7 linked regions of the Homo sapiens genome follow. The protein of the gene in region 7 interacts with the protein of the main gene of each other region in a pairwise test. Each region holds a gene or a part of one and is shown on either strand. Other genes may lie near its edges. The genes, in order: AMFR, TRIM35, RMND5B, UBE4A, RNF111, RFWD3 and UBE2D4.

Evidence for each region.
Region 1: the proteins of UBE2D4 (region 7) and AMFR interact in a two-hybrid assay, tested with the Homo sapiens proteins (2 studies listed by BioGRID and IntAct).
Region 2: the proteins of UBE2D4 (region 7) and TRIM35 interact in a two-hybrid assay, tested with the Homo sapiens proteins (one large-scale study listed by BioGRID and IntAct).
Region 3: the proteins of UBE2D4 (region 7) and RMND5B interact in a two-hybrid assay, tested with the Homo sapiens proteins (one large-scale study listed by BioGRID and IntAct).
Region 4: the proteins of UBE2D4 (region 7) and UBE4A interact in a two-hybrid assay, tested with the Homo sapiens proteins (one large-scale study listed by BioGRID and IntAct).
Region 5: the proteins of UBE2D4 (region 7) and RNF111 interact in a two-hybrid assay, tested with the Homo sapiens proteins (2 studies listed by BioGRID and IntAct).
Region 6: the proteins of UBE2D4 (region 7) and RFWD3 interact in a two-hybrid assay, tested with the Homo sapiens proteins (2 studies listed by BioGRID and IntAct).

Annotation. Positions count from the first base shown.
Region 1 is NC_000016.10:56,363,749-56,366,545, forward strand, and holds part of AMFR (E3 ubiquitin-protein ligase AMFR), read right to left. Parts: intron 358-2,797; coding exon 173-357; intron 1-172. UniProt on the Homo sapiens protein: E3 ubiquitin-protein ligase that mediates the polyubiquitination of lysine and cysteine residues on target proteins, such as CD3D, CYP3A4, CFTR, INSIG1, SOAT2/ACAT2 and APOB for proteasomal degradation.
Region 2 is NC_000008.11:27,300,989-27,305,188, forward strand, and holds part of TRIM35 (E3 ubiquitin-protein ligase TRIM35), read right to left. Parts: intron 3,856-4,200; exon of another isoform or gene 3,773-3,855; intron 1-3,772. UniProt on the Homo sapiens protein: E3 ubiquitin-protein ligase that participates in multiple biological processes including cell death, glucose metabolism, and in particular, the innate immune response.
Region 3 is NC_000005.10:178,137,014-178,141,213, reverse strand, and holds part of RMND5B (E3 ubiquitin-protein transferase RMND5B), read right to left. Parts: intron 3,107-4,200; 5' UTR 3,095-3,106; coding exon 2,956-3,094; intron 2,932-2,955; exon of another isoform or gene 2,818-2,931; intron 1-2,817. UniProt on the Homo sapiens protein: Core component of the CTLH E3 ubiquitin-protein ligase complex that selectively accepts ubiquitin from UBE2H and mediates ubiquitination and subsequent proteasomal degradation of the transcription factor HBP1.
Region 4 is NC_000011.10:118,376,364-118,380,563, reverse strand, and holds part of UBE4A (ubiquitin conjugation factor E4 A), read right to left. Parts: intron 3,991-4,200; coding exon 3,870-3,990; intron 1,119-3,869; coding exon 814-1,118; intron 1-813.
Region 5 is NC_000015.10:59,028,847-59,033,046, reverse strand, and holds part of RNF111 (E3 ubiquitin-protein ligase Arkadia), read right to left. Parts: intron 2,244-4,200; coding exon of another isoform or gene 2,225-2,243; coding exon 1,345-2,224; intron 1-1,344. UniProt on the Homo sapiens protein: E3 ubiquitin-protein ligase. Required for mesoderm patterning during embryonic development. Acts as an enhancer of the transcriptional responses of the SMAD2/SMAD3 effectors, which are activated downstream of BMP.
Region 6 is NC_000016.10:74,659,890-74,664,089, forward strand, and holds part of RFWD3 (E3 ubiquitin-protein ligase RFWD3), read right to left. Parts: exon of another isoform or gene 2,067-4,200; intron 1,565-2,066; exon of another isoform or gene 1,563-1,564; 5' UTR 1,561-1,562; coding exon 1,043-1,560; intron 1-1,042. UniProt on the Homo sapiens protein: E3 ubiquitin-protein ligase required for the repair of DNA interstrand cross-links (ICL) in response to DNA damage. Plays a key role in RPA-mediated DNA damage signaling and repair.
Region 7 is NC_000007.14:43,946,482-43,950,681, reverse strand, and holds part of UBE2D4 (ubiquitin-conjugating enzyme E2 D4), read right to left. Parts: intron 2,051-4,200; coding exon 1,945-2,050; intron 84-1,944; coding exon 1-83. UniProt on the Homo sapiens protein: Accepts ubiquitin from the E1 complex and catalyzes its covalent attachment to other proteins. In vitro able to promote polyubiquitination using all 7 ubiquitin Lys residues, but may prefer 'Lys-11' and 'Lys-48'-linked polyubiquitination.

The sequences.
Region 1 (2,797 bases), on a different chromosome or scaffold from region 7:
TTACCAGATGCTCTGGTTTTTTCAAGAGAGGCTTGAAATCTGAGTTTTGGGGTGGCATGTAATGCCGTTTCACTGTTGGCATCTGTTTAAAAAGAGAAGACGGCCTGACAACGGCCTTCAGCCACTAGTTTTTGATCTGGATTATGCCAGGTGGTCTGGAGAAGCGACTCACTTGCGAGCTTGCTGGAGGAGTTCGTCCTTACGCTGCACCAGCATGCGCTGTCTCTCATCAGCAGACTTGGAGAAGCGGCTCCCACGAGCCTCGAAGTCTTCCACCTCACTGGGCTCCACTTCCACCTCGCCGAAGTCCAGCGTCTCCTCCAGGCGAGGACTGAGGTCCAGTGGCACACGCTCGGTCTGGACACGGGGCAGGAAGCAAGGAGGCAGCTGTGAGCACAGGCCTCCCTCCTAAGCAGGTTCCTCACCTACAGGGCACCCCAGACACGGCTGTTCTGGACGCAAAGAGAAGGCTGCTGCCAAGCAGGGAGGCAGAAACTAGGAACCACAAGCTACGGATAATGGAGCAGCAGCTTCCCTGAGGGCAGGCCTGCTGCCTATGGCTTGAGTAGTACTAAGAACAGGACCTGACTCACACAGAATGTTCGGCATCAGAGGGTAAGTAAATGATTACCAGCATGAAAAACGTAAGCACCTTCAAGCTGCACTCTTAGAATACGCTACCAACACGACAACCGTGAGTTTACATCCTGGGAATTTTCTGTTCACTTCTACTAATTGCTCAAACATTTAAACCAGTCTTATCCAATCTTCTGCACAAATTTTATATCCTCAATTGACTCTGAAAACAGAGGTAAAAAGGAAAACTGCTAGGCATCTATTTATTTATTTATTTACAGACAGGGTCTCACTCTGTCACCCAGGCTGGAGTGCAGTGGCACAATCTCTGCTCACCACAGCCTCAACCTCCCCAGGCTCAGGGGATCCTCCCAACTTAGCCTCCCAAGTAGCTGTGACCACAGGCTCGTGCCACCACATCTGGCTAATTTTTGTATTTTTTGTAGAGACAGGGTTTTGCTTTGTTGCCCAGGCTGGTCTCAAACTACTGGACTCAAGCAATCTACCCACCTCAGCCTCCCAAAGTGCTGGGACTACAGGCATGAGCCACTGTGCCCAGCCCTAAGGATCTTTTGAAAAGACACAGGATGGATTATATGGTTCCTTGGCTTTGGTTGAAGCTCCAAAGTCCACGACAATGCCCAGGCACCCCCAGGTCCTAGCAGGTGCCTGACCATCTGCGCTGCTCATGCTCCCAGATGCAGACCTGCGCTGGCCAGGGTCAGCCCATTGCCCGCTTCTAGGCTGTGACAGAATGGAGGTGGGTGCAGCTGAGAGGCAGGCTGTTTTACTTCAGAGTTCCTGCTGGACCTACCCTCACTTTTTCCTGCCTTCAGCTAAGCTCGAGAGGGAACTTCAAGAGAACCATTCGTATCCCCGAGAGTCAAAGGACGGGGGAACTGGTGGCTGCATACACTTGAGAAATCTACAGAAAGAAACTGGCAGGAGCCAATAAAATACAGGGCCAGGGGAGCTGTGACGGGAGCACGTTCACCTTCCACTGACTCCAGACAACACTGTGTGTGTCCTGGAGCTTGGATAGGGCTCCTGCAGGAGGGAACCAACCTAAGGTTGTTGAAAACAACTGTGCCCAAAAGGACCACTTGGAGAGGTAACAGGACCCCCATGAAGGTGGGAGTGGTCATCAATAGCCAGCCCAGGGTCAAAGGAGGAGTTTCTGGGGCCAGATGGGGACAGGGAGATAGTTGGCATAACATGTACACACACACACACAGACACACGTAGTTGGCACAACATGTAGGTACATACACACACACGCACACACACGCTGGAGTCTCACTGTCCTATTCTATCCCTCTCCTCTAAGCCTGACCCTAGAGCAGGTTAGAAAAAATGGTGAGTGAAGAGGCGAGATGTTAGAAAGAAAACAGCCGCCCACCGCAACCCCTGCTCTGTGCAGCTGCATGCCTGACTAATACCAGCCTGAGCGGGGCAGGGCAGAGATTAGAACAGAGGGAGAGTGGAGCTGACAAGCTTACTGGGCTACACTGAGGTTTCTGTTAACTAATTGTTATTCAAGGACTTTGTATTTCTTCACAAATGACCAAAAATGTTGCACAGCAAGGTTCCCTGTGAAATACATACTTTCCTCCATTATATATACATATATATATATAAAATCCAGAACTCTTCATGCTAACTCTAGAAGCAGCAGTGGAAAATCAAGACAGGGACTGAATATGCTGTACCCACAGATGCCCCCAAGCCCACAGCATCCATATCTCAGCTGCGCCAGCTATTCAAAAACTGGAGGCCGGGCGCGGTGGCTCACGCCTGTAATCCCAGCACTTTGGGAGGCAGAGGCGGGCGGATCATGAGGTCAGGAGATCGAGACCATCCTGGCTAACACAGCGAAACCCCGCCTCTACTAAAAATACAAAAAATTAGCCAGGCGTGGTGGTGGGCGCCTGTAGTCCCAGCTACTCGGGAGGCTGAGGCAGGAGAATGGCGTGAACCCGGGAGGCGGAGCTTGCAGTGAGCCGAGATCGCACCACTGCACTCCAGCCTGGGTGACAGAGCGAGACTCCGTCTCAAAAAAAAAAAAAAAAAAAAAAAACTGGAAATGTAGACATGGACCCCTTAGAAGCCATGCACCATTTCACAAATGATGCATAATCCAATTACATAGGTGGATATGAAAATCTTAACCCAGCAACAGATTTGAAGAAGGCCTAGTAGTGTTTACTGTTTCCTCTTTGTA
Region 2 (4,200 bases), on a different chromosome or scaffold from region 7:
TTATGGGACAATAAGGATGGGAAGGGGATAGTCCCTTGATCTTCTCAAACTTTTCAATCACTTGGAGAGTTCTGGTTTCCTTCAGAAAAGACCAATCCTAAAATGGCCCTTCTCTGAGATGTCAGCTGATGAGACTAACCAACAATTATATTACTATTGCTAGCAAGCAGTTACTATTAAGCATGTACTAGACACAAGGCACTAAATTATGCACTTTACAAACATTCTATTTAATTCAATTATTTAATTCGAATTCTCCCTATAAGGTTAAGCACTGTGAGTCCCATTATACAGAGGATCAAGTTAGACCCAGAGGAGGTAACCTTCTTGTACATGTCTCCTGGGGACACATGGGAACTCGTTTCTTCATAATATATTCCTGGGGATAAAACTGCTGGGCCACCATATGTGTCTTCACTTTACTGCGTAATGCCAAATTGTTTTCCAAAGCAGTGGTACCAATTTTTACAGCAAGAGCAATGTTAATAGAAAATGTTTATTGACCACTTCAATGTTTATTTTTAAGTACTCAGTAAAGTATTGTCCATTTTTCCATTGCGTTGCCTGCCATTTTCCTAACTGGTTTGTGGGAATTTATTATATATACACAATGTATGTCCTTGATTAGTTAGAGGTGTAATGAATATTTTCTACTTCATCATTTATCTTTCTTAATTGAAATATGGCCAAATTTATTAGTCTTTTCCTTTAGGATTAGTATACTAGTTTTAAGAAACACCTCCCTACACTGAGATCACAAAAACAATCGTATTATTTCCTCAAAGCTTTATAGCTTTGCATTATTATTGTATAGCTCTGTAGTATTTTCTCAAAGCTTTATAGCTTTCCTTTCACATTTAGGTCTGATGTGGATACCTGGAGTTTATTTTTGCACATGGTGTGACCAGGTAGCTCATTGTCTCAGCACCATTATTTAAAAAGACCATTACTGCCCACTGGTCTGCAGAGCCACCTCTGTCTTAAATCAGACACAGATCTGTTTTTTGGTTCTCTCCATCTGTTTCTCTGGCCCATCTGTTTATCCTTGTGCCAACATCACACAGCCATAATTTCTATAGCTGTAAAAAAGAGAGGATTTCTGATAGGTTTCTCTTCAAGAATGTCTTGGCAATTTTTGGCCCTTTGAGGGTCATATAAATTTTAGAATCTGTGAAGTTGCATAAAAATAATCATGTTGAGATTTAGATTAGTACAATATTGTCTCTATAGATCAATTTGGGGAAAACTGAAAGGCTTAAATACTGACTTTACTAATCCACGAACATAATATATCACACCAGTTACTTAATGTTCTTTGATAGCTCTCAACGAAGTATATTTTTCCCTATCAGAGTTTTGCGTATCTTTTATTAATTTCTTCCTAGTTATCTTATTTTTTATATTATTGTAAACATATTTTTAAATTAAAAAAACCCAAAACAGGGTCCCCCTCTGTCACCCAGGCTGCAGTGCAGTAGTAGCACAATCATAGCTCACTGCAGCCTCCTGTGCTCAAGTGATCCTCCCACCACCTCAGCCTCCCAAGTAGCTGGGACTACAAGCATGCACCACCACACCTGGCTAATTTGTTTTAACTTTTTGTAGAGACAGGCTGGACTATGTTGTGCAAGCTGGTCTGAAACTCCTTGGCTCAAACGATCCTCCTGCCTCAGCCTCCCAAAGTGCTGGGATTACAGGTGTAAAACTCCCTGCCTATATTTTATTTTCTATTTGCTAGTGATACATAGAAATACAACTGGTTTTGCATCTTGATTTTGGATTCAGCATTCACCTAAACTTATTAATACTTATGATTTAACTGTAGAATCTTTATTTTCTACACATAGAAATCTCAGTGCAAAAATATGCAACCATATTATCTACACATGCCAGTTTTGCTTCCCTTCTTTCCAAACCTTACATCTTTTATTTATAATTATTGGCTTACTTCATTGACAAGGCTATCCCACACAAAACTGAATAGAGTTGGTCATAATGCGCATTCCTGTCTTTTTCTTGATCTCAATAAGAAAGCTTTCAATGTTTTGCCATTAAATGTGATATTTGCTGTAAGTTTTTTTGCTAGATATACTTAATCAAACTAATGAAATTCCTTCCATTTCTAGTTTCCTGTTTTTTTAAACACAAAAAGATGGTAAATTTTATCAAATGTTTTCTCACTGAGATAATTATATTAAGCAACACAGAATTAGGTTTCGTTTTCTTATCCAGTCAGATCAACATTTTCATTTAACTGGAGTATTTAACACATAATTACCGATATGTTTGCATTTAAATCTGCCACCTTGTTCTGAGCTATTTGTCTTGCTTATTCTATTTTTCTTTTTCTTCCTTTCCTTTTTTAAAATTTACTACACATTTTTTATTCCATTTTCCCCTTCTGTGCATCTAGTGGTTCACCTAGGAAATATGACATGTAAGAAGTGTGAATTTGAATGCATCTAAACAATATTATTTTGTTTGCTTTTGGTATTAATTTTAACCCTAAATATGCTTAGATTACAAATAGAACTACCACTCAAGGGGCCTGCCTGTAGCCCAAGGAGCACATGAATGAGCAGAGATGGGCAGTAGCAGGGGCCCACAACAGATCTGGAGCATCCCCCAGCCCAAGCTCAGGAGAGCAAACAAGCTTCGATGTTAGCATCACATTATAACATTAAGATTTTTTATTTATTTATTTTATATTTTTTACTTTTTTGAGATAGAGTCTCATTCTTCTTGTCCAGGCTAGAGTGCAGTGGCGCAATCTCGGCTCACTGCAACCTCTGTCTCCCAGATTCAAGCAATTCTCTTGCCTCAGCCTCCCAAGTAGCTAGGATTACAAGTGCCTGCCGCCATGCCCAACTAATTTTTGTATTTTTAGTAGAGACAGGGTTTCACCATGTTGGCCAGGCTGGTCTTGAACTCCTGATCTCAGGTGATCCGCCCGCCTCGGCATCCCAAAATGCTGGGATTACAGGCATGAGCCACCGCGTCCAGCCTACGTTAAAGATTAGTTATAAACACACACAAAATAGGTTTTTATTCATACTAAAGGATCCAGAATGTGATCATATAGACTACATGATTTCCCAAAAATGACAAGTTGATTCCTTAAGCAACAAATTTCAATTGCATATTGAAGATCTTAAGCACTTTACAAAATCACGTTACCCACAATTTTCATTAACAGGACAGGTGCTCTGTGGTATAGCTGGAAGCAGGAAGGTAGGGGCAAGGGAAAGAATGAATTTCATTGCACAAGGTCTTCATAGCCTCTTTGCAAGGACTTACCAAAGTGCTAGAGTTGCATGTGAAACCAGCTCTGTCTGGCCTGAGCCAGGTTTTCTGTCTTGTGAGACTTGATACACACTGTTGCTCTGCCTGGTTCCCACCTGCTTCCCCCAACTAACCCAACATCACCTTGAAAACTCGGCTCTAGTACCCCTCATTTCCTCCAGGAAGCCCCCCGATCTTGCCAGCTCAGGTTCCATTCCAGGGCATCACAGCACCCTGGCCACCTCTGTCTCAGCACTCACTATCCAGGGTAATAGCTTCTCTTTCCTGAGGGCAGGTCTTAACCTCCAGGTCCTCTCTACCTTGCATAGTGGTGCTCGGTACACTTCTGCAGAAGGAATGCTTGCTCTGCAAGGTGAGAGACTTTGTTTTGTCCCCTGCATGTCCAAGTCCCTGCACAAAGTAGATGTTCAGTTAACCACCTGCCCAGTCAATGAGTACATGGAATGCCTGTGTTTTTTCTGCTATATACCTTGCCTCCTGGACTGAAGGTTAGGAGAGCTGGTTTGGAGCCTTGTCTTTGTCACTATCCACTGGTGAGTTGGTAAAAAGTTCCTTCTCTCTTCGGCTATCAGGCTCCTCACCTTAAAAATGAAAGCAGAGAAGTCTCTACAGTCTCCCAAATTTCACGATTTGTTTTCAGGCAGATTGATGTAGCAGCCAAGAGTTCTGGCACCTGGCCGACCAGGTTCAAATCCCAGCACCTCTACCTAGTAGCAGGTGATCTTGAACATGTTCCTTCACTTCTCTGCACCTCCATTTCCTCATCTGGATAAGAGGGATAAAAAATACTACCAAGCTCAAAGGACTGCTGTGAGGACTCCACAAATCAATCCCTATAAGATGCTTACATGAGAGTGGCAGGCACATGCTGTGCATTCGGCATAGCTCTTAAGTGCC
Region 3 (4,200 bases), on a different chromosome or scaffold from region 7:
TTAAAAGAGTGAGTTTAATGGTAAGTGAATTATAGCTCAATTTTTAAAAAAGACATAGGAACCAGGGACTCCCTCTGGTCAGACCTAAGACAATTTGAACATTAAATAACTGCAATGGATTATAACCTATTGAATAAAATAAGAATATGAGTGTGAAGTGATAATAATGAAAGGAGAAGGGAAAGCTTCTTTTCAGTTGAATGTCAACTAATAAATGTATAAAGAATGACAAAGCAGGAAAAATCACCATGTTGCAGACAGCTTAGTAATAATTCACACAACAATCATTAATGGATACTAAAACTAGTAGGCTGAAATTTGGTAAAGAGCAGGACATTTATATGGTATCAAAGTATCTCCCCACAAACTACTTTTTTTTTTTTTTTGAGACAGTCTCGCTTTGTCACCCATGCTGGAATGCAGTGGCGCGATCTTGGCTCGCTGCAACCTCCACCTCCTGGGTTCAAGCGATTCTCATGCCTCAGCCTCCCAAGTAGCTGGGACTACAGGCATGTGCCACCATGCCCGGCTAATTTTTGTATTTTTAGTAGAGATGTGGTTTTGCCATGTTGACCAGCCTGGTCTCAACCTCCTGGGCTCGAGTGATCCGCCCGCCTCAGCCTCCCAAAGTGCTAGGATTACAGCCCACAAACTACTTAGTGATTACAAAGAAAAATTAGGAAGTTTACAGTGGAAAACCTTAGCAGCGACCATCTTAACTAAGTGATCAAAGTGAAGATCAGGCCAGGTGCAGCGGATCATAATCCCAGCACTTTGGGAGGCTGACACGGGAGGATCACTTGAACCCAGGAGTTCGACACCGTCTTGGACAGCATAGGGAGACCCTGTCTCTACAATAAAAAAAAAAAAAAATTAGCAGGGCCTGGTAGTGTACTGCTGTGGTCCCAGCTACTTCTGAGGCTGAGGTGGTAGGATCACTTGAGCCCAGGAGGTCAAGCCTGCAGTGAGCCAAGATCGTGCCACTGCACTGCAGCCTGGGCAACAAAGTGAGAACTTGTCTCCAAAATAAAAGTGAACAACAGCAATAATGCAATAAAGCAACATCTTGTGTCTTCCAGTGTGATGCACTGAGAAACAAATCACTTCTGAAGTACTGCCAAAAATGCAAAACCTAAGTAATGAGAAAACATCAGACAACTCCAAATTGAGAGACGTTCTGCAAAATAATTGGCCTTAATGCTTCAAAAATACCAATGTCATGGAAGATAAAGGAAGACAGAAGAAATGTCTCAGATTAAAAAAAGTAAAGATTAGACAGGAGAAACTAAATGCAGTGTGTGATCTTGGATTGGTTCTTGGACTGGAAATTAAAATGCTTTATGAAAATTCCTGAACAGCCGGGCATGGTGGCTCACACCTGTAATCCCAGCACTTTGGGAGGCTGAGGCAGGTGGATCACCTGAGATCGGGAGTTCGAGACCAGCCTGGCCAACATGGCAAAACCCTGTCTCTACTAAAAATCCAAAAAAAAAAAAAAAAAAATTAGCCAGGCATGGTGGTACGGGCCTGTAAACCCAGCAACTTGCGAGGCTGAAGCAGGAGAATCTCTTGAACCTGGGAGGCGGAGGTTGCAGTGAACCGAGATTGCGCCATTGCACTCCAGCCTGGGCAATGAGAGCAAAACTCTATATCAAAAAAAAAAAAAAATTCCTGGGACAATGGCAAAATTGAAATGTTGACTACACTGGCTGGGTATGGTGGCTCACACCTATAATCCTAGCACTTTGGGAGACCGAGGCAGGCAGATCACTTGAGGTCAGGAGTTCGAGACCAGCCTAGCCAACATGTCAAAACCCCACCTGTACTAAAAAATACAAAAATTAGCTGCAGGTGGTGGCATGCGCCTTTAATTCCAGCTACTCGGGAAGCTGAGGCACGAGAATTGCTTGAACCCGGGAGGTGGAGGTTGCAGTTGAGCCAAGATCACGCCACTGCACTCCAGCCTGAGCAACAGTAAGACTCCATCTCAAAAAAAAAAAAAGAAATGTGAACTATAGTTATTAGGTAATATTATATCAATGTTTCATTTCTTGGATTGATTTATTTATTTTGTTTTTTGAGACGAGTCTTGCTCTGTTGCCCAGGTTGGAGTGCAGTGGCGTGACCTCGGCTCACTGCAGCCCACCACCATGCCCAGCTAATTTTTGTATTTTTAGTAGAGACAGGGTTTTGCCATGTTGGCCAGGCTGGTTTTAAACTCCTGATCTCAGGTGATCTGTCGGCCTCGGGCTCCCGAAGTGCTGGGATTACAGGCGTGAGCCACTGTGCCTGGCAATTTCTGGGTTTTAATAACTACGCTGTTTTTATGTAAGAGAATGCCCTTGATTTTAGGACATACACACTGAAGGCTTGGGGCTATGTTATCTACAACTTATTTTCAAATGGTTAAAAAGTAATGATCACGGCAAATATGGCAACATATGAGCAGTTGGTGAATCCAAGTAAAGGGTATATATCAGTTCTTTATACTATTCTTGGAATTGGTCTGTAAATTTGAAATTATCTTTAAAATCTTAAAAGCTAAAAATAGGCCAGGCATGGTGGCTCACGCATATAATTCCAGCACTTTGGGAGGCTGAGGCAGGAGGATCACTTGAGCCCCTAGGAGTTAAAGACCAGCCTAGGCAACAAAGACACTGTTTCTACACACACACACACACACACACACACACAATTATAAAATGAAAAAAAGTTAAAAATAGAAAAGTAAGTTGAAAACAAAATGTAAATGGGAATCATCTCAGGTAAATTAATAATTTGTTGGGCTTTTTGAAGTAGCTCAGAGACTGTCATTACCCGGTTTCAAGGAGGCCTACAGATGCAGGTACCAACATCCTCATCATCGTCCTTCCGGAACCCTGTCACTCAGTAGCTTCGGGTCTCCCATGTCCTCAGGGAGGCTGTCGCAGGGCACTTGCAAGGGTGGCCACCCACCTGCGCTGGCCAGCTCAGCCCGCAGCTGGCCCACGTAGTGCAGCAGCTCCTCCAGGCTCCGCTCACAGTGCTGCCCGTAGGTCAGGAACTTCTGCAGGACCTTGTCCAGCTCTCTCTCCACGCACGCACACTGCTCCATGGTGGCCTCAGCCTGGGGAGGGTCAGCTGGGTCAGGCCCCATCTGGGCCACGGTGGCATGGCAGGCAGGGTGCCCAGACCACCTCTTCAGATCCCTCTCACCATTCCCACATCATGTATCAATGTTATATGTTTTGTACATATATGTATATATGTACCTATGTTTTGGTAAGCATATAACATCCCATCTCCTCACTCCACTGGGGTGCCCAGTGGAGGATGCAGGCTGGTGTGAGGACGAGGTTTTTCTTAATCATGGTGAGAAAATTATTATTCCATTTTCAACTCTTTTCATGCCTTAATTTTTGTTCATCTCCCTTTTAAATCAGAATAGAGAGCAGGCCTCACAGAGCCCTTAGCTGGCAATACTATCTAACTAGAAATCCATATACTGCATAATGTCATATTACACGTATGTATTTTCTTTTTTTGAGACAGGCTCTTGTTCTGTTGCCCTGGCTAGAGTGCAGTGGCACAAACTCAGCTCATGGCAACCTTGATCCCCCCAGGCCCAAGGGATTCTCCCACTTTAGCCTCCTGACTAGCTGGGACCACAGGAGTGTGCTTCTACACCTGTCTAATTTAAAATTTTTTTTCGTAGAGACGGGTCTCTCTGTGTTGCCCTGGCTGGTCTCAAACTCCTGGGCTCAAACGATCTTTCCACCTTGGCCTCTCAAAGTGCTGGGATTATAGGCATAAGCCACCATGCCCGGCCCGTGTATTTTCATAGAGTTATTATGGCCACATTCTTACAGTTAGAGGAACTGCTTTTCTACGTACTATAGTAACATAAACCATAAAGGCCGTCCTTGAGTGGCTGATATTTGGAAACACAGCTTGGGGAATAACTGCCAACCATGCTGGCCTGACGGACTTGCCCAGCACTCCTGCCTCACCCTCACCCGCCGCACACCCGAGGACAGGCACAGAACCCTTGCTGTCTCATAGCTGCGTGCCCTGGTACATGCTGCTTCCTCACCTGGCCTGCTCTCCATCACCCTTACCTCCTCGACTACTTGAGAGGCTGGCCCATCACTTCTGAGTTAGCTCAGACGTCAGCGTCTTCAGCAGCTGTCTCTAGCCTGTGCCCACCTAGCTCCCTCTACT
Region 4 (4,200 bases), on a different chromosome or scaffold from region 7:
GTCACCCAGGCTGGAGTACAGTAGTGCAATTATGGCTCACTGTGGCCTCAACTTCCTGGGCTCAAGCGATTCTCTCACTTCAGCCTCCTGAGTAGCTGGAACTACAAGTGTGCACCACCATGCCTGGCTAATTTTTTATTTTTTGTAGAGATAGGGTCTCTCTATGTTGCCCAGGCCAATCTTGAACTCCTGGGCTCAAGTAATCATCCTGTTTCGGCCTCCCAAAGTGCTGGGATTACAGGCGTGCACCATCATACCCAGTCTGTAGTTTTAAGCTGCTATGTTTTGGGGTAATCTGTTACTCAGCATGATATGGCCAATACAATGGTTAAGAACACATAACCTGATTAGATTGACAACACCTGCCCACCCCTCAATGACTCACTGACACACACACACACACACACACACACACACACACACACACACGCACACACACACACACACTCTTTCCCTTCTGAGTTAACCAGCAGGAGCTAATTTTTTTTCTACAAAAAGGACAGGGAAAGTTAGATGAATGTGTAAGTTGAACAAATATTAATGATAGAAACTAACAGCTCTGAAAACTCTGATTACACTTAATCCTTTGAAGATGATTTTCTGATATGCATAGCAGGGGGACACAAGGTTGAGGGAACAAACTGTTAGTCCCCTAATACTTTGACCAGTAGATATTATCTAAGTTTGAGTTGTTTCTCCAAAAACAACTGAATGATAACGAAGAAAGGGTATTTTGAGGATTAAACTTCCAAAGTGACCCACTTAAACTCAGAAGGCTATAAACAGGACATTCCCAAGGGAGAGCCTGCTTACCTGGCACATAAGCCAAAGAGCTGTAGCCATCTGGCAAAGGAAAGGTTAGCTCTATTGGCTGTGAGCCCTCATTGCCTATGGCCAGTTGAACCAGTAGAACAGCCATGGACACCTGCAAGTTTAGGCAGTTTTGTAGCATTTGTGGCTCTGTCATGGCAGTCTTGGTAGAAAGATAGATGGTCATCAGTCGTTCAAACTGCTCACGAAGATTGTCAGCAGCAGGGCTAGAACTTTGCTGAGCATCCCGCCAGGCAACCTGCAGCCGATGCAGATTTTGGTTGATTTTTACCATCTGATCATGCAACCTGCCCCCAAGAAAGCAGAAGAGACTGGGTCAGGGAAAACAGAAAGTCACAAAAAAACAAATCCTCAATTATTTATCTAGCCTTCTCTTTAAGGATAGTAGGGAGTTGCAGTTGCAATGACACAGAAGGCACTCACAAAAGTTTTTGACAGGACACAGGCAGGGTGCACAGCAATGGGAAAATGCTGCCAAGTATTCAACATAATTGAAGCTAATTGCAAATAGCAGCCTTCAGTTGAAATGCACTATCCAAAGAAAGGCAGCTTGGTTGAGTAGGGTGTAGAATGGGTTGTTATTACATAAAATAATTATTAGGCAAAGTACAAGAAGGCCAGCAGGATAGTTTTACATCACACAAGGGCAATGATCATACTTTGATGCAATGATCATACTTTGATGGGGTTATATGGATAGTCTTTCTTTGGTTAGTAGAAAACTAAGCTGGTGAAAAGGGACTCTAGATTAGTAATGACCACATATAAACTAGTAGCCACCTGAGATGCAATCTAAGAGCAGCTTCCAGCTCTCTGTTGTTCAATATTAAATTAAATTATTCTTCAGAAAAGGTCAGCCTAATATTCTCTACTGAAAGGAAGACACATAATTCAAAGTTATGGATAATAGTCCAAAATCATTTCCTTTGGCCCTGTAGATAATGTCTTGAGCTAGCTAATATTGGGAAACTAGATGATATTCATTTTTTGTTTGAATCTAGGCAGCTGAGCAGCTTAAGCACATGCTGAACTTTTATCTACTGTCTTATTTAAAATGTCTATGATGGAGATTTCTCTCTAAAGACATAATTTCCTTCTTCCGGCAATGTGTTGACTGAGTAGTTTTGAAAAATGCTCTGCATCAATTCAGGTATCTTGAGAAGGCATTAAAAATTGCTATTCTTAGTGTCCCTTTCTATGACTGAGTTGCTGTTTTCTTCCTCTACTTATACCTGTCATAATCAGCTAAATCAGAGGAAAACAAATTACAGAATAATGAATAGCCAGAACCAGAACTGTTTTTGGAAGTCATACATTCTAGTTCTAAAATCTTAACATTTCTAGAATCTTCTTTATCTAATGTCTTTTGTGGTCCTATTGATCTCATTAGCTCCCTTATAAACATTTCCTTAATATTTGCCACTTTTGTCTCTATCTGTAGAGTAGAACTTGGTCTTTTTCTTTTTTTTAATTAATTTTTTTTTTTGAGACAGATTCTCGCCCTGTCGCCTAGGCTGGAGTGCAGTGACACCATCTCGGCTCACTGCAACCTCCGCCTCCCAGGTTCAAGCGATTCTCCTTCTTCAACCTCCCGAGTAGCTGGGACTACAGGCGCGTACCACCAAGCTGGGCTAATTTTTTGTATTTTTAGTAGAGACGGGGTTTCACCATGTTAGCTAGGACGGTCTTGATCTCCTGACCTTGTGATCTGCCTGCCTCAGCCTCCCAAAGTGCTGGGATTATAGGCATGAGCCACTGCGCCCGGCTGAACTTCATCTTTTATCACCAGGAGTAGTAATGAAATTTTTTTTTTTTTTTTTGAGACAGGGTTTCACTATGTTGCCCAGGCTGGAGTGCAGTGGCGCAATCTCGGCTCACTGCAGTCTCAACATCCCAGGCTCAAGAGATCCTCCCACCTCAGCCTCGTGAGTAGCTGACACTACAGGCACACGCCACCATGCCCAGCTAATTTTTGTATATTTTGTAGAGACGGGGTTTTGCCATGTTGCCCAGGCTGGTCTCAAACTCCTGGGCTCAAGTGATCTGCCTGCCTCGGCCTCCCAAAGTGCAAAGGATTACAGGCATGAGCCACCACACCCGGCCAGTAATGAAAATTTAAGAGCAGAAAGTGCAATATAAAATGAAAACAATTCCACTTTCCCAGATCACAATAGGAAGACAGTGATTTAATTTTTAAAGTTTAACAGGTCAAAAGTTAAAAAACAGGCCAGGCACAGTGGCTCATGCCTGTAATCCCAGCACTTTGGGAGGCCAAGGTGGTGGATCACCTGAGGTCAGGAGTTCGAGACCAGCCTGGCCAACACAGCGAAACCCCATCTCTACTAAAAAAATACAAAATCAGCTGGGCATGGTGGTGCATGCCTGTAATCCCAGCTACTTGGGAGGATGAGGCAGAAGAATTGCTTGAACCCAGGAGGCGGAGGTTGCAGTGAGCAGAGAATGTGCCACTGTACTCCAGCCAAGGTGACAAGAGCGAAAATCCATTTCAACAACAACGACAACGATAAAAGTTAAAAACAAATTTAAGGAATCTGGACAAAGCTGATTCATGAAACACAAGTAAATTCATACAATGCCCCTTTTCTATTAGATTCTAATGTGAACCTTTAGAATAAGCTCAGATTATATCTGTAAGACTCTTCCTCTCTTTTTTTTTTAAGAAACAGGTTATCACTCTGTCACCCAGGATGGAGTACAGTTGCACAATCATAGCTCACTGTGGCCTCCAACTCTTCGGCTAGAGCAATCCTCCTGCCTCAGCCTCTGAAGCAGCTAAGACCACAAGCATATGCCACCATGCCTGGCTAATTTTTTTTTTTTGGTAGAGATGGGGGTCTCACTTTCTTGCCCAGGTTGGTGGTCTTAAACTTCTGGCCTCAAGCAATCCTTCTGCCTTGGCCTCCCAAAATCCTGAGATTAAAGATGTGAGCTACTGTGCCTGGCCAAAGACTCAATTTCTACCTTCTAGTTATCAACACAACTAAACTGTTTTTTCCTAATGACATCAGAGGAGTTACCTGTGAAATCCCAAGTACAAGGTGTACTCTGTCAGAGCAAGGTTCTCTGTTACAAGGTTGTAGTTCTGTGGAAACTTCGGCTCCTGCACAGCTGGGATCAAACAGGTTTCTTTGTCCAAACCTCAAAGAAGTTAAAAAAAAAAAAGAGGGTAAATGTCTTGGTCTCCAGTCTCCTCTTACACTCATTCAATTTCCATACTGTTAGCAGTGATATCTTCTTAAAAACATATCTTGTCATATTAGTTCTTTGTCTGAATATATCTTTTGGTTTCTCACCGTCTACAGAAATACAGTTAAATCTTTTTCATGAAATCACCAAAAATTAAAAGGA
Region 5 (4,200 bases), on a different chromosome or scaffold from region 7:
CTCACTTCAACAACTCCCTTTAAATTACAACTGTAAAAGTGATGCATTATCTTAGGATGGTTTGTATACATGGAACATACATTTCAGGACTGTCTGCAAATAAACTTATTCTACTTAAATATCACATTTACTGTGTGTGTGAGAGAGAGAGAGAGAGTCAGCACGCATGAGCAAGAGCACACAGGCTCAAGAGCACTGATAGGAAATAGTCCCTACCCAATTTTAATTGATGTATCATATGCACTGTCGAGACTAAAAGTCTCTGGGTCCTAGTATTAGAATAAAAGTTACTTGAAATTACTTTTCAGCTATAAAGAACATGATAACAGCAAACAACAAGAATATAGTACTTAAAGAAAAAATATTGAGAGCCCAAGGCAGGTGGATCGCCTGAGCTAAGGAGTTCAAGACCAACCTGGGCAACTTGGCAAAACCCATCTCTACAAAAAATACAAAAATAAGCCAGGTGTGGTGGTGTGGGCCTGTAGTCCCAGCTACTTGAGGCGCTGACGTGGGAGGACGGCTTCAGCCCAGGAGGTGAAGGTTGCAGTGAACCAAGACTGCATCACTATACTCCAGCCTGAGCAACAAAGCCAGATGCTGCCTCAAAAAAACAAAGGAAAAAAAATTAACCAGTCTTTTTTAGTGACTAGAACTGTTCTTACTATGGCTGAATCCATCATACAGGTAGCTGAAAAAGTATTCATAACAGTCAAGCATATTAAAGAAACACAAGGAAAAAAATGTGTACCATAAATGAAGAACATACATAAAATATAATCTAATATGTATAAAATGTAATAAATGAGGCCAGGTACAGTGGCTCATGCCTGTAATCCCATCACTTTGGGAGGCTGAGGTGGGCAGATAATTTGAGATCAGGAGCTCAAGACTAGCCTGTTCAACATAGTGAAACCCCGTCTCCACTAAAAATACAAAAATTAGCTGGGCATGGTGGTGGGCACCTGTAATCCTGGCTACTTGGGAGGCTGACGCAGGAGAATTGCTTGAACCCAGGAGGCGGAGGTTGCAGTGAGCCGAGATTGCGCCACTGCACTCCAGCCTGGGTGACAAAGTGAGACTCTGTTTCAGAAAAAAAAAAGTAATGAAGGGTTATTCTCCCAAAAAACTCTGACTTATTTTTGTCACTAGAAATTTTTTAAATTTTTATCTTAGCATTAGAGTCATGGTTTAATACTGCAATTGGTAATTTATATGACTTAAAAATAAAAGTTAATAGAACCTGATAGTCCCTTTAAATAAAATCAGTAAGACACAAACAAAAAATTAAGCACAAATGCAATGCAATAGGTTCCATGTTTTACTCAGCTTAAACATTTTTACCTGAGGGAACAGCTGGATTGTTTTGGTGGTTTTCACTGGCAGAAACAAACAAATCTTCTTCTCCTTCAGTTGATGAGCTAGAAGAGGATTCACTGCTGAGGTCATTCTCACTGGAACTACTAGAACTAGGTAGCAAGGCATATTTTCTTCGAGCTAACACTTCTCGTTTCTTCCTCTGCATTAATATCCTCTCTTTTTGTTTCTGTGTCCTCTGTGAGGAATTATTTTTTACAAATCTCTTTCTGCATGGAAGTCTCCGTAACGAACTGCCATGTAAACAGGGTCTTTTCATTAACAATCCCGATACAGATTCTGTCTCAGTCCGAGGCCACTTATGAGACCGTGCACTATGGCTTCTACTTTTAGCATTCAAAATGGTCTGGGAATGTCTTACAGAGACTTCTTTATCCTCATCTGAAGTCACAGTATCAGAATCTCCAAAATGCAGACTAGATGAAGGAGAAGAAAGACAATCACTAAAAGAGGAATCATTATCTTCATCACTTGGTGTCCCTAGGTGTTGCCTCAGTCCTAATATTCCCTGGTTTTCTTTAACACAATTCTGCACATACGAAGGGCCAGCCTGCTGGCTTTTGCGTTTTTTCCTCACAACGAGACTTTTTTCTTGTTCTTGCTGGTTACCATTCATTTCCTTCTCTTGCTTTTGAGAATCATCACACAGGTGAGAGAATTCATTCCCCACTTTACTATTAATCATCTCAACTCCTGCAGGAAAACTTTTGGCTGCCCCAATGGGCTCTGGATGCAAAAGGATCCCTTTCAGACTCTCCTGTGTCTTTGGTGCATCAGAAGGAATCTCACTCTTCATATCCACTTTTAAGGTGTAGAGCTCGTTATATTCAGGAGTCCATTGAGACATGGGAAACTTTAAGGAAAGCCTAGAAGACAAAATTAGATATTTAAAAGATTTTTAATGTGTTTTATTATACTATTTAATTGAAGAGTTCTCAAATTCCACCAAGAAGATCCCTTATAAAGGCAGAACTGTCTTTTCCTCATCAGTACACAAAATGTCTGTTATGAATTATTTTACTATTCTTATAAAACGTTTTTCTCTGGTCACTCTACTCATGCATCCAATTTTTAGAAATACAGTAGATATAGAGCATAAGCCTACTTAAAAACTTCTATTAACCAAAAACTGATCTTATTGCATATCTCACTACCTTCAGCAACAAAACATATTTGGTCAAATCAAACAATTACTTCAAAACCTATTTCAGTGAAATATAAATAAAAGGATTCGAATTCAAAAGACTAATTAGTCAACATGTTTTACTCCTGGTATGACATTTTTAAGTGGTTATTATTAAATGTTTCTGTACATCTAGATGGTTACTACATTAGATTGATATTATTAATAATGAGCTAATGAATATAAGCTTCTCTTTTCTATTTTTTTTCCTTCATACTACTCTATTAATTCTCTAATGAGAATCTGAATTCTCCTGATAGTAGACACAACTACTGCATTTCAGTTTTAAATACAAAAAGATTAGAGCCAAGACTGTGGGCTGCTGAAGATCATTCAGTTAAATAAACAATACAGCAGAACATAAAATCAAACTTTGTACAGCTAATCTATCTAAATCATTCAACATCTTAAATTACGAGCTGCCAAAAAGAGATCTGAATTTAAAGCATTTACATCAATGCAATGTACATATGAAAATAATGTAATAGTAAATATCATGACTCAAAATGAAATATATTAATCAGAAAGGCAGTAAATGTGACAAATGAAGAGCTTTACTAGTGCAAAACATGAATAAACAATGTTAACATATTTTTAACAAGTTTTTATTAAGTATAGCATACACACATATTCTAAGTTTATAGATGAATGAACACTAAAAAAATGAACACCTCTATGTAACTGGCACACAGATAAACAACATAACCAGCACCCTAGAAATCTTCTTCCCATTACTACAGCCCACCAAACTGTTAACCACTATTGTAACTTCTGACACCACAGATTTGTTTTGCCCATAAAATACATTTTGAAACCAGTTCCTAAAAAGCGAGTACAACAGCTGTTTAGTAAGCAAGTATTTTCCCTCTCTACAAATGGGTTACAGAAATATATAATCTTACAGGTCTCCCATGTTACTATAGTATATAACTTTACTATCAGAACAAATGACAATAATTAAGGCATAGAATGACCTATTCCTACAGAAAGCTATCAAAACCACTATCTTCTTTTATTCTTATTCACAAGCACAGGCAGTGCTGTATCCAAGATCAGCCATCACGCGCTATCTGTAGTTCAGCAGGATCAGTGATAAACCAGGAATACAAAGATGAGTGAACATGAGCATGGCAATGAGCAAATTACAGAAGGCAGCCAGTCAGACAAGGATCACTTTAATTAAAGGCAAGAACACAGAAGTCACAATGATAAAACACAGGTACATGTGATCTAAGAGTTGAATGGGGCCAAACAGGATGGCTGTAATAAAGAACACAGGTAATAACAAGTGTTAGAGAGGATGCATAAAAAAAAAACATTGGAACCCTCATATATTGCTGATGGAAATGTAAAATGATACAAGCTACTTTGGGAAGCGGTCTAGCAGATCCTCAAAAATTAAATACAAGCTGGGCGCGGTGGCTCATGTCTGTAATCCCACCACTTTGGGAGGCCAAGGCGGGCGGATCACTGGAGGCCAGGAGTTCGAGATCAGCCTGGCCAACATGGTGAAACCCCATCTCTACTAAAAATACAAAAATTAGCCAGGATAGTGGCGCACTGACTGTAATCCCAGCTACTTGGGAGGCTGAAGCATGAGAATCGCTTGAACCTGGGAGGCAGAGGTTACAGTGAGCTGG
Region 6 (4,200 bases), on a different chromosome or scaffold from region 7:
CACAGTGTTAGAAAACATCGGCATGGTTGCGTATGCCTGTAGTCCCAGTTAATCATCAAGAGGCTGAGGTAGGAAGATCGCCTAAGCCTGGGGAGGTCGAGGCTGCAGTGAGCTGTGATTGCACCACTGCACTCCAGCCTGGGGAGCACAGTGAGACCCTGTCTCAAAAATAACAATAATAAAAACAAGAAGAAAGAGAAAACAAAGGGATTTCGTCGAAGCTTCCTCCATCTGCCTATGTAGAAAACAGGGCAGATCCAGGCTCCAATATCAGTGCTAACTCCTCTATTCTATAGTTATGAGACCCTGAACAAAGCCCTCTCTGAGCGGAGATCGCACCACTGCGCTCCAGCCTGGGCGACAGAGTGAGACTCCATCTCAAAACAAAACAAAACCAAAAACAGACAGGTTTAATTAGTTAGGTGTGGTGGCACGCGCCTGTAATGCCAGGTACTGGGGAAGCTGAGGCAGGAGAATCGCTTGAATCTGGGAGATGGAGGTTGCAGTGAGCAAAGATTGTGCCACGGGAATCCAGCCTGGACGACAGAGTGAGACGCTGTCTCAAAAACAAAAACAAAAAACCAAAAAACGGACAGGGTATAGGCAATTGTTATTCTTCATAATAACCCTGTCAAGACTTGACAGCTAAGCCCTTCAAGAGGCAAGTTCAAACCAAGACTATGAAAGAAAATTAATTAATTGTGCCCCCAGGTGGAATGCCAGTGAATAATGAATTTGGGTGAGTAGAGACTTGCAAGTGAAGAAAGAATTTTTGGTGTACAAGACACAATCTGAACAACAGCCAATCTCTACAGAGATTGCCAACAAACTACCACCTAGTTTTCAAGGCACAACAGTTTAACTTATCCCTTCATTACTTTGTGAAGTAAGGCAAGCACTTTTATTTCCACCTATGAGGAACTGGGGGTCAGAAGTTACCTGACTTGCCAAAAGTCACACTGTCAGTCCTTGAATGGCAGAGCCTCAGTTTCATAATTTCTAGTACAGCAATGATCACAGACTTATCCATATATTTATTTACCTGGCACTGTCTGTCCTCTGAGACCCTCCGGCTCTTGCCCTCCGTGAAGCAGATACCCTCCTTCTTGTTCTCATTGGCCCTACACTGTGGTTTGAAGATGAAGGTCTCAGGAATTCCAGCATGCCATGAAGTCTCTGCAGTCCGCTGATGAAGTTGGTCATTGAATGCAACGAAGATGCTGGGATGGTGTGATTACCATCAGATCCCTGCCTATGTTGTTCTGAAGTTCTTGGATTGATGTTCTCCACAGTGTCTTCTCCCAAGACCTCCACTTCTGTCAGGTCAACAGACAGTTGCGGAGCAGGCTGGAGCAGGGGTGGTGTCGCTTGGCTGCTGATCACCTCAGCAGGAGCTGGCTGGAGGATGGATGGTACCCCCTGGCTGCTGACCACATCAGCAGGAACAGGCTGGAGGAGGGCTGGTCCCCCTTGGCTGCTGGCCATGCCAGCAGGAGCTGGCTGTTGTTCGGCATGATTTAACTGCACCTGAACATCATATTCCATTGCTTCATGAGCCATCACTAGAGAAACAGTATTTGTAAAAAGTATTAATAAAATAGATAAAACATGCTATGTAGGTGACAGAATCATATTTAATCTTTCTGATTTTATGTTTAATATCATTCTTAGCAAGACTGAGAAGCTTCAAGAGAAGATTTTAACTACTTAAGTCAGAAGTGTTTGGTAATGGACTTTCCTCTCTATAACAAGCATTTATAACCAGTTTTCCGGTTTGCCCTTAGAAAACATGAAGTCCTGTGATCATAGTAGTATCTTCCAAAATAGAAAGATCTATAAACCAAGGAGATTAAACTACTGGGTCTAAAAGTAATCTCTCAGACACTTTGCAGTTCTCTCAAGCTGAATATGGACATTCACCAAAATCAAATGCATATAATGCAGTATCTAATTTTAGCAGGCAATATTAATCTTTCACAGCATCAACAGTTACAAGGGATAAATAGAGAAAGGACATTTTTTACACTTGCAAAATTAACTGTTACTAACTCAAAATGGAAACTTACCTAATGTTTCCAAAAAGGCTGAGCAAACTTTATCCTATCCCTTTCATTATTTTTGTTTTCCATCTCTAATTCCATCATGTTAGCGTATTCAACAAATATTTATTAAGCACCTATGTTCTTTTCATGTTTCCTATCTTTAATTCCATTGTATCAGTTTGAAAACTACCACCTAGTTTTTAAACTAAAAAAAAAAATTTTTTTTTGTTATATAGATGAAGGCTTCCTATGTTGCCCAAACTGGTCTTGAATGCCTGGCCTTACCTCCTCATGCATCAGGACAACAGGACTGAGCCACTGTGCCTCCCTACCACCTAGTTTTTAAAGTACATCAGTATAACTTATCCCCTTAATTACTTTGTGAAGTAAGGCACGTGCTTTTATTTTCATCTGACTTATGAGGAAATGGGGGTTCAACTAATAGTTATTAAGCACCTGTTATGCAGACAAGACACCCTAGAGGCAAAAACAGATAAGACCCCATGTATCAGAGTTTAGATTCTAGCAAGTAAGATGTCAATAAACAAATACATGAAAAAAATTATAGATTATGATGTTTGGGGTTGAGGAGACAAAGAGGACCAACTAAGACACAATTGTGAGGGAAGTACTCTTTTAAAGAGTGAAAATTGGGCTGAGGCATGAAGGATTAAAAGCAGCTGGCTATGCAAAGAGCCAAGAAGAGTCTCAGAAGGAAATCAGTGCATAGGTCCCTGATGAGCATGGGTTTCACTGATGAACAGGACACCATTATTAAAGGGCCTATGGGCCTTGGTAAGGAGTTTCTTCTATGTTAGGAATGCACTGTAGGGGTGCAAGAGCATAAGCTAGGTGACCAGTGTAGAGGCTATTGTGGGAGTCCAGACCAGAGGTCAGAGAGACCTAGGCAAGAGTGGTAGCAGTGGAGATGAAAACAAACAGACAGCTTTAAGAATCTTCAGAATGGTCATGCTTCTTTTTTTTTTTTTTTGAGATGGAGTCTCGCTCTGTTGCCCAGGCTGGAGTGCAGTGGCGCGATCTCGGCTCACTGCAAGCTCCGCCTCCCGGGTTCACGCCATTCTCCTGCCTCAGCCTCCCGAGTAGCTGGGATTACAGGTGCCTGCCACCACGCCTGGCTAATTTTTTGTATTTTTAGTACAGCCGGGGTTTCACTGTGTTAGCCAGGATGGTCTCGATCCCCTGACCTGGTGATCTGCCAGCCTCAGCCTCCCAAAGTGCTCGGATTATAGGCATGAGCCACCGCGCCCGGCCAATACTCATGTTTCTTAAAATCATCAAAGCAGATTAAACCACCTGAGGAACAGAATGACAGAAGAGGGCTGAAGACTAAAGTCAGAGACACTACTGTTAAAAGTACAACAGAGTAAAAGAAGCCAGTTAAGGAAGATTATAAAGTAGGAGGAAACATGGGAATGTGGTGTCTTGGAAAAACAATGTTTCAAGGAAGGAACAATTGAGTGTCAAGTGCTACTGGGGGGAAGAACGGCCGCTAGATTTGGCAACATGAGGATGACAGGTGACCTAAAAAAGCAGTTTCCCTGAAGTGGTGGGGTCAGAGGCCAGACTGGTGCAGGCTGAATAAATGGAAGGAATTCTAATAAACATAGTGGACGAAGTACATATATGTATCTTTCTCTCTCCACTCCAGTCATTCCTAAAACCCACGAACATGACCCCCACAACCTGAGACATTTTTTTAAGAAAGGATAAATTAACCAGGACGACACAAATGCAAACAGGGTATGATATGCAAACCAGTTTTTTAAGGCCATAAAGGAGAAACTGATGATTGATGACTGCTTAGCAGAGCCAAAAGATAAAACTCAAAGCCTGCAAAGGGCACAGTGGTTGGGGTGAGGTGTGTTATTGAGAAGCAAGCTGATTCCCACTAAAGGGACTGTAAAAACCAGGTACCACAAAAGGCAATATTGAAAGATGGCGCTAAAAGAGAAGGGCTGGTTAAAAGCCAGTAAAGCAGTTAGCTTGACTCCTACTCAAACACCAGCCAGCTAAAACAAAACACAGAACAAAGCCCTTCTCCCCCTATGCACGAGAAAACTGGAGGTTTGAACCACACAGGCTTACACTCAGGATGGAGAGTGGCACAGTACTGAAAATAAGTGGGAAAGAAAGTCTG
Region 7 (4,200 bases):
GGCCTTGTAGGTGTGTGCTATCTCTGGCACCAGGGGGTCATCGGGGTTGGGGTCGCAGAGCAGCGAGCAGATGGACAAGAGAACTGGGAAGAAAAGAAAAGGTTGGTCAGCTGTAGCCACGAAGCTGCTGGGTCACCCCTGGGTAAACTTCCCTGAACTTGCACTCTGTATTTTGACCAAGCAGTTGTCTTCCCTTCAACAGCCCAATCTAAATTGCTTGATGCACCACTTGCCCCGTCCCATGTATCAGCCGAGGTGGTCCTCACTGTGTGGCCTGAGGCATGCTGTGCTAGGATACTTCCCTCCTGGGTGCATCCTGGTTCTCATTCCCCTTCTCCACTGAAGCACCCCATCTTAGTCTCCAACTGCCCTCCCATCCTTGTCTGTACCCTACATCATGAACCTCTGGCATTTAGTCCTAGGAGTCCTGTTTACTGTTAAGGAAACAAGAATTCAGAGCATTCAAGTAACTTGTCCAAGGTCACAGACTTGGAACACCCAATAAATGGATTAAAATGAGATTCTGGACCAGGTGCGGTGGCTCTTGCCTGTAATCCCAGCACTTTGGGAGGCCGAGGCAGGCAGATCACCTGAGGTCGGGAGTTCAAGACCAGCCTGACCAACATGGAGAAACCCTGTCTCTACTAAAAAAATACAAAATTAGCCAGGCATAGTGGTGCATGCTTGTAATCCCAGCTACTCAGGAGGCTGAGGCAGGAGAATCTCTTGAACCTGGGAGGTGGAGGTTGCAGTGAGCCGAGATCGCGCCATTGCACTCCACCCTGGGCAACAAGAGCAAAACTCGATCTCAAAAAAAAAATAAAGAAATTCTGAACCAGGTCCTTCTAACTGCAAAGCAGATGCATCCTCCTCTGTGCCAGCACCGTCTCTAAGATGTGCACTCAATGTGGCTCTCAGCAACCCTAGGGGAAGGGAATCACCCACTAGGGCTGTGGTGAGGAGCAGAAGGAATTGTGGTGCCTGGATTCTTGGGGTCCCAGAGAGAAATGCACACTTTCATTCCTGGCTTTGCTTTCGACTCACCATATGATTCCAAACAAACTGGATTCAGTGAGTCCATCAAAGTTCTGACCACAGGTCCCCACACATAAAGCTACAAATGACAGGGGCAGGTTTGCCTTTCTTAAGATACTTGGCTGGGCACAGTGGCTCACGCCTATAATCCCAGTGCTTTGGGAGGCCACAATGGGAGGACTGCTTGAGGCCAGGAGTTTGAGAATGGCCTGGGCAACAAAGTGAGACCCTGTCTCCTCTACAGAAAAATTTAAAATTTAGGCCAGGCTCTGTTTCTCTTGGGTTGATTTTTCACCATCCTCCCACGCTCCACCTGCCAGGATACTGCACCATCTACATTCAGGTCTCTCGTGCATACATAGCCCATGCACAGCCCATCTTAATTCAGAAGGAATATCTGCATTTCTAAGCTCAGTTTAGACTGGTTTCTTCAACTTCAACCAAAGACATGTGCTCAACATCATTTATTTTGGGAAGGGAGGATTTCTCCACCAACTTCGAGGCCCCCGGAGGCATGCCCTGTATCTTCCTTCAGGGCTGACTCACAGTCCGTTTTGTGCTTATTAGATGAATAAATGAGGGAACAGAGAAGGTAATGTAATATTTGCCTTTCTTATTTTTGGATAAAAAAATATAAGTAGAATCAGTATTTTCTTCTTGCACCCATGTGACAGTCTTGAGCACACCAGGGCAATTGACTGCTGAGAAGCGCCAGGGAGCGGGGCACAAAGTTCTGCTGGTGCTGCCTCGTAGGCGTGTAAGGATATCCACTTAAGGGCACAGCAGTGGACAGGGCTATGTGACCTGGGAAAGGTGACTTCTTTCTCTGAGCTTCCATTTCCACTCAGTCAGTGCTGGGGTAAAAACATGTGTAAAAGAGCACACAGAGCATGCCATCAGCATCTCTACCTTTTGACACAGTCAACGCTGGAGACCACTGAGACCGCAGGATATCAAGGCAGATGCTGCCATTGCTGTTGATATTAGGGTGATAAATTTTGGTTGTGAAAGCAACCTGCAAAGACAAGAGATCCCCAATCAGACAAACCACAGGGACGTGTGGGAAATGAACCAAGTAAAGCAGAAGCAGCTGCTGCTGGGCAGTACCTGGAGTGTGCTGCATACCTGGCCCCACAGTGCAGGCTAAGCCAGACCCCCACTCCCAAACTCTAATGGGATATGGGAGTGAGTGATCACCCAGAAGTTCCCTGACCCATTCCCTGCTGGATTCTCATTCTGAACATAGGGGGATTGATACCATCTCCCTGAAAGCAGTATGCTCTGAGGAATAACAAGGGTGGTGGAAAGGACTCAAAAGCCCAGGAAGTTTTATGCAAAAAGCAGTGATGTTTTGTTGATGTATCAGCAGAAAAGCTCAGGCCCAAAGACTTCATGACTAAAACACCAAAAGCAATGGCAACGAAAGCCAAAATAGACAAATGGGATCTAACTAAACTAAAGAGCTTCTGCACAGCAAAAGAAACTATCATCAGAGTGAACAGGCAACCGACAGAATGGGAGAAAAATTTTGCAATCTACCCATCTGACAAAGGGCTAATATCCAGAATCTACAAAGAACTTAAACATATTTGTAAGAAAAAATCAAACAACCCTATCAAAAAGTGGGCAAAGGATATGAACAGACACTTCTCAAAAGAAGACATTTATGCAGCCAACAGACACATAAAAAATGCTCATCATCACTGGTCATCAGAGAAATGCAAATCAAAACCACAATGAGATACTATCTCACAGCAGTTAGAATGGCGATCATTAAAAATCAGGAAACAACAGATGCTGGAGAGGATGTGGAGAAATAGGAATGCTTTTACACTGGTGGTGGGAGTGTAAATTAGTTCAACCATTGTGGAAGACAGTGTGGTGATTCCTCAAGGTATTCCTCTAGTACTAGAAATGCCATTTGATTCAGTAGTGATCCCATTACTGGGTACATACCCAAAGGATTATAAATCATGCTACTATAAAGACACATGCACATGTATGTTTATTGCGGCACTATTCACAATAGCAAAGACTTGGAACCAACCCAAATGTCCATCAATGATACATTGGATTAAGAAAATGTGGCATATATACACCATGGAATACTATGCAGCCATAAAAAAGGATAAGTTCACATCCTTTGCAGAGACATGGATGAAACTGGAAACCATCATTCTCAGCAAACTATCACAAGGACAGAAAACCAAACACTGGGCCAGGCATGGTGGCTCACACCTGTAATCCCAGCACTTTGGGAGGCTGAGACAGGCGGATCACCTGAGGTCAGCAGTTCGAGACCAGCCTCAACATGGAGAAACCCCATCTCTATTAAAAATACAAAATTAGCCGGGCATGGTGGTGCAGGCCTGTAATCCCAGCTACTCGGGAGGCTGAGGCAGGAGAATTGCTTGAACCTGGGAGGTGGATGTTGCGGTGAGCCGAGATCACGCCATTGCACTCCATCCTGGGCAACAAGAGCGAAACTCTGTCTCAAAAAAAAAAAAAGAAAACCAAACACTGCATGTTCTCACTCATAGATGGGAATTGAACAATGAGAACACAGGGACACAGGGCGGGGAACATCACATACCAGGGCCTGTCGGGGGGTGGGGGCTGAGGCAGGGATAGCATTAGGAGAAATACGTAATGTAAATGATGAGTTGATGGGTGCAGCAAACCAACATGGCACATGTATACCTATGTAACAAACCTGCACGTTGTGCACATGTACCCTAGAACTTAAAGTATAATAATAAAAAAAAAAGAAAAAGAGAAGCTCAGGCCGTGGACCCTCTGCCAGGCCACAAACCCTCCCCACCTTTCTACTTCACCCTTTCTAAGACCCCCCCTTCTCAGAATTTAGCCCTAAAATACCCTTGTGCACTTCAAATATGTAAGGATAACCACTGTAACAAAAGATGTAAAACCTAAATGTCTTCAGATTGATTACTGGTTAAATTAATGTTATATATAAGCAACAGAATATTACACCTGTTTAAAAAGAATGAGGTGAATTTTTAAAACATGAATGTGATCATATGGAACAATTTCCAAGATATATTGCTATGGGAAAAGCAAGATGCAGATTCACGGAAAGGTCTGTTCCATTCATGGGAAAAACAAGGAAGCACAAACAAGTGCTTATCCAGGTTGAGATTACTC